2 separate regions of the Homo sapiens genome follow, and region 2 is linked to region 1. Evidence: fine-mapped expression QTL. A gene starts in region 1. The other region holds a variant in brackets. All regions are shown on one strand. Distances are from middle to middle. Region 1 holds the start of TACR1-AS1 (TACR1 antisense RNA 1). Region 2 overlaps TACR1 (tachykinin receptor 1).

What was found. PIP is the estimated chance that this variant, and not a neighbour inherited with it, causes the effect.
Region 2: its variant is fine-mapped to the expression of TACR1-AS1 in lung (TOPMed, PIP above 0.99).

The regions. Positions count from the first base shown.
Region 1 is chr2:75,153,008-75,155,928 of GRCh38, forward strand. TACR1-AS1 (TACR1 antisense RNA 1) reads left to right here and starts at 1,311. Exons shown (of 4, transcript NR_168010.1): 1 at 1,311-1,564. All of the region lies in intron 1 of TACR1 (tachykinin receptor 1), which reads right to left.
Region 2 is chr2:75,185,250-75,188,170 of GRCh38, forward strand. The region is part of intron 1 of TACR1 (tachykinin receptor 1); the gene reads right to left. All of the region lies in intron 2 of TACR1-AS1 (TACR1 antisense RNA 1), which reads left to right. Among named protein-coding and RNA genes, the nearest start is that of TACR1, 13 kb to the right of the region's middle. The variant T/C (reference allele first, on the strand shown) is at 1,555.

The DNA.
Region 1 (2,921 bases):
TTCTCCTGTTTCAGTTTCCCGAGTAGTGGGACTACAGGCGTGCACCACCACGCCTGGCTAATTTTTGTATTTTTTAGTAGAGATGGGGTTTCACTATATTGGCCAGGCTAGTCTTGAACTCCTGACTTTGTGATCTGCCCACCTTGGCCTCCCAAATTGCTGGGATTACAGGCGTGAGCCACTGCACCAGCCTAAGACTTCTTATAAGAGTTCTTTTAGGCAAAAGCTCAGCAGAGGGCAGGGTAGGAACAATACACAATCACCTTGACTGAGTCTAACAAGATGCTATGGCAAGAAAGCACAGGAATTGTCAGAAATCTTTTCTGAAGGCATCCAAGCCTCAGTGGGATGTTATGAAAGACTGCTTCTCAGAAGATAGTCCTGACACCTAAGTGGGTGACTGAGCTAGAACCAGCTACTCACTTGCTGAGAATTATTGACCTCTCTTGTGAAATGTCAATATTGACTGACTGCACTCTGAGCTGTGCTGTTAAAGGCGTTCAGTTTTACAAGGGAAGCAGAGCATAAGGTCTGATGTCTCTTCCAGATCTGATGACCTAAGATTTGTTTATAGGATCAGGAAAAAAACCCATTAAAATACATCTCTTAATTCTTAGAGTATTATTGAAATTGTGTACAACTTGGAGAGAAGCAATGGCAAAACTTCTGAAATTCACCTGGCACATTCCCTGTTTCCTTCCATGTGGCTGCTAACCCTTTTAAGTTGTGAAGACAGAGGATCCAGGTGGACCAACCAGGGATGCAAAAGGGAGGAGGTGGTTTTAACTCCTGTGTGCAAGGATTTAATTCCTCACGTATCCTCTCTTCCTATTCAAGCTAATTCCAGGTCATCAGTGTACTCTAAGTATTCTAATCAGATTCATTAAATTTTTTTTCCTGGAATCACTGATGGTGGGCAGCACTATTGAGCTTTATTCAGGGTGTGGGACTGAGGTCTCTCCATGAGGCCATTCACTTTTGATAAGGAAACTGGCCTCACTATAGGAGTTCAGTAAAGGCCCAGCTTGCTGGCTCACTGATTAATTGAAGGGCGGGGGTGTGGGGCTTGCTGTGCACAACTAAAGTTCACTTGGATGCCCCCCTCACTGCCCAAAGCAATGCTTGGCCTACAGGAAGCTGAGCCTGCTGCTGCCTTCCTCCCGGCTCCTGGCTCCCTCGGGATCTGAACACTCAGGGTCATGCTGTTGCTGCCCAAGCAGGAAAATCCTGTTTCTGAAAATCCCAAACAACAAACAGCTCCCCTACAGAGCTCATGGGGGAGTAGTCAGAACCTCCAGACTGAGCATGTCACAAGGAAGGACTGCTTTGCTGAAGCCACTCACTCCGGGAGATTTATAATTGGAAGTTTGGCCCAGGGAGATAATCAGCCAAGAGCGCGCACGCACACACACACACACACACACACACACACACACACACACACTCTGAAGAAACCCAGTGGAGATTCAGCACTAACCCACCACACACACACACACACACACACACACACACACACACACTCTCTGAAGAAACCCAGTGGAGATTCAGCACTAACCCAGCACAGGTGAGTGAGAAATTACAACCTGTCAGCCAATGAGCCATGGTGATTCCCTCTGAAGAGGGTTTCCCAGCTATCATTCCCTTTCATCCCCACTGTAAGTTAGGCCCTCGTGCATGTTGCCTGGACTGTGGCTGGAGTCTCCTAACTGTCTTGTCTTCTCTGGGTTTTCTGGCCCCAGGTCTCTCCCTGTCTATCTACCCTGCATCCCTGCTGCTGTTGGAAGAGTCCCCTAAAAGACCTTCTCCACAGCACTGCTTAGCTCCTGGTACTCCCTTATCCCTCCTTTCGGCCCATCCTCTGCCACTGGCTTCCAAGTTCGCATTTGGCCTGCTCCCTACCTCAGTCCTGGGCAGTGAGGCAGGAAGCTGCCTTTCTCCTCCAGATGAGTCTGTGCTCTGCCTCTCTCCTTTGCGTCTCCAAATTCACACTGAGCATGAACATCTCTGACCTCACCTTTTCAAACCAAATGAAAGGGCTGCATAAGGACAACTTAGTTTATTTTGGAAGGCTGTTACACTTTGACCTCCATTTAAAAAACAAACAAAAAAATCTAAAAACCCCAAAACGTTGAGGGACTGTTCCCAAGCCCCAGCATCTTTGCCCCATCCTCAAGCCTTCCAGGACCCTCTCTCCATTCTTGGGATTGCAGCTCCTAACGTAGTTCTCCTCTTCAGCTCAAGGACAATTCTAACTGTCTTCTTGCCTGGTATGGCTTAATGAGCCTCAAGCTCACTTAGCATCATCTGGATTTAATTTCCTCTCTTGCCGTGAGCAACCTTGGCTCATCTTTCTGCCTCTCTTCTCCTCTCCTCTTTTTCCTGTCTCCCCCTCCCTTTGCTTACATGCCCTTCTTCCCCCTTTCTCTCCTCTCTCTATCTCTACCTCTCTAATGTCCACAAGTGCCTCACAACTGCCCCATTCAACCCCCACCTGAGTATCACCAGCTCTTCTGGTCCAGCTCACCTGTAAAATCTCTATTCCATCCAGAGAGGCCACCATCTCCTGTTCTAAGGGTCACATAGCTCAGATACAGACAAACAAGGTCAGGACAACCACCCTCCTGCCTTGGAAAATCACCAATTACCCTCCATTATTATATTTCTTGTGAAGCTACATTTACATTTTATCATATCCACATAACAAGAGAGAGAGTTTTAAAAAGGAGAGTGGTCAAATGTATGTCAAGAGACATAGAAACACTTAGAATAATGTAGACAGAACAGATAGCTGGAGTTATTAGAAGGTTATTGGAGACCATCAAAAAGGAATCAAGATGGTTTAGGATATATTCTATTATTCTAACTCAGGATTGGTAAATTATGGCCCATAGGCCAAAGCTGGCCTGCTGCCTATTTTTTTA
Region 2 (2,921 bases), 32 kb after region 1:
AACAACAACTAAATTATAAAAGTACAGTAAATGAAATTATTTATGCATATTTGCCTACTTTTGAGTTGAGGAAGGTCTTTTTATGCATAATAACAAAGAGAAAGCACAAAAGAAAAGGCAGATAGATATAACAACATAAAATAATATAAAATAATCACTGAAAAAGAAATGAACATTTTAACCTGAAATATAAAAAATTTTTATATCACATGACCATCAAAAGGTTATAGCCTTTAATATAGCCTCAACCTACAGTTTCTGCAATTCAATATGGAATTTAAAAATTAAGATTTAAATTTAAAGCTCTATTAATTCACAAATACAAAGGAATAACAAATATATTAAAATATACTCACTAGTAAGAAGTGCAAACATAACTAACATTTTAATCTTTTAAATTGGAAAAGATTTTTGTAAAATTGTTAGGAATATGGATAAAGGAACACTCCAATATGTTGGATCTATATATTCTGTTTCACACTGCAAATTACTAAAGCTTTCTGAAGAGTGGCTTAACAGAATGAAGCAAAAGGCTTAAGATGGCTAACACTCTGAACAAACAACTTTTCTTCTAAGAATTTATCCTAATAATCATCCATGTGCGCTAGTTTTGCTAAAACACATTGATGACAAATTATATGTTGTAGCAAAATCTCAAAACACCCCCCAGGGTTTAAGCATGAGGGATTATTTAAATTACGATACTTTGTAACCACTTGGCATGATCTTATAGAATAAAGTTTATTACATAAAATATATCTTTATTATGTAAAAGAAAAATAAAATTGTATATGCTATAGGACTATAATTATGAAGATTCTATGCATAGAAAGAAAGTCTTGGGCCAGGCACTGTGGCTCACGCCTGTAATCCCAGCACTTTGGGAGGCTGAGGCGGGCGGATCACGAGGTCAAGAGATCAACATCATCCTGGCTAACATGGTGAAACTCCGTCTCTACTAAAAATACAAAAATTAGCTGGGTTTGGTGGCTCGCGCCTGTAATCCCAGCTACTCGGGAGGCTGAGGCAGGAGAAATGCTTGAACCTGGGAGGCGGAAGTTGCAGTGAGCTGAGATCGTGCCATTTTACTCCACCCTGGGCAACACAGCAAGACTCTGTCTCAAAAAAAAAAAAAAAAAAAAAGAAAGAAAGTCTTGGCATGAAATAATTCCTAAGAATTGACAATAGTGGTGCTTAGGCAGTGAGATGAGCGTTGATTTTACATTTATTTTTCTTCAAACTATTTTTTTGTAAGTTGCTAATTCTCTTTAATAAGTGTGTAATATTTTACGATTTATTTATAATTTAACTATATTAAACTAAATTTAAACTAAAATGTGATCAGAAAAACATTGGAGTTGTGCAGGTAATATTCAATAGTAAGTTATTTTTCTTAAAAAAAAAAAAGGTGGCTTAAGTTCTTACCTAAATGAACAGCCTCAAGAATCCTTTCAGGATCCTTCCAGACTCATCTGCTTAATCAGAATGTTAGTAATTTGCATTTTTTTCTATTGCTGTACTCATCAACTGTTTTATATACAGCAGTTTTTGTTT[T/C]CATCTGTTTCATCTCCATTTTTCAGTCATTGACATTTATTGAAGCTGTGCTATTTTCAAAATGCTGAGGAAGTATTGGGAGGAGATGAAGCAAGGAATTTTTATCCAGGTGTACAGAGAAAAAAAGAAAGGAAAGATGCAGACAAAGAAAAAAGGATGAAAACTTCCAGATGACATGTGGGTCCAGACAGACCCTGGCAGAAAGCCCAGCTCTTGGAAAACTGGCCCTCGCCCCAGGATTTGTAAACAGCACAAATTCACTGATGAAGATGCAGGAGAGGTGAAGAATCTGCTTTGGCCATCTCAGCAGCACTGCCCTGCTGCCCTTAACCCCAACCCACTGGACTGGCTGAGAATATATTCCACAGTCCCTTCTTAACATCCTTCCAGGTTGTAAAGATATTACATATTTATCAAAACAATTAGTGACTTATAAGAAGTCTGAAGAAGACAGAAGCAAATACGCAAACAAATGCAGAGTGCAGTAGCACCTCAGGGCAGAGATAATTCTGCCTGTGACAGGAAAAGATCTTTCAACAGCAGTTTGACAGCTCCTGGTGACAGATCCCCACCACAGTATCCTCCAGCAGACCCCTTGGTGGTATACCTGGGACTATTTTTTGAAAGCCAAACTCTGGATACTTCTGTATTACCTAAACTCCGGCACCTCTTACATTCCACATTGGCACAGTTCCGAGGTCTAAGTTTGTTTTAATTCTCTACAATCTTTCCTGTTCAAGGAGTAGGTAACTAGAATGAACACATTCCCATTTTAAGATACAAATGGGACCTTGGAGGTAGAAAGACGTCCATATTGTTTGTACCGTAGTGTGATTTTAATTAGCTGCTCTTCTCTTGGTTCAACTCAACTTACTAAATTGGATTGGCTGTGAAGGGAATGGAGCAGTAATTTGGGTTCATGCATTTGTGAAGCAGGATTGGGGAGTGCCTCAATGCAGACTGTAGCTGGTTATAACATTATTGGAGGGAAACCAACAAAAACGAGGGAAATAGTATCTGCGCCTTCTTTGCATTCTGCCTAAAGTCTTAGGATCACAGTGTCCTAATTGGATCATTGAAAACCTATGATGGCTTTGATTTGGCAGGTAATCTAGCTGAATCTTTAACACATTAACTTCCAGACCCCTCATCATTCCAGCTGGGAAGAGAAAAGAACTTCAGGAACAAATTTTAAAAATGAAATTTGTTAAATCATGAAAATTCCAATGAAGTTTTCTCTTTTATCTTCCTAGCTCATGTTTGAAGAGCCCAGCTAAGTTGTTGAGCTAACTCGTATTTCAAGCTCAGGGCTGCATTCATTTTGGTTCCCATCACGAATTCTAAAGGCATTTGAAATTTCCCCTTGG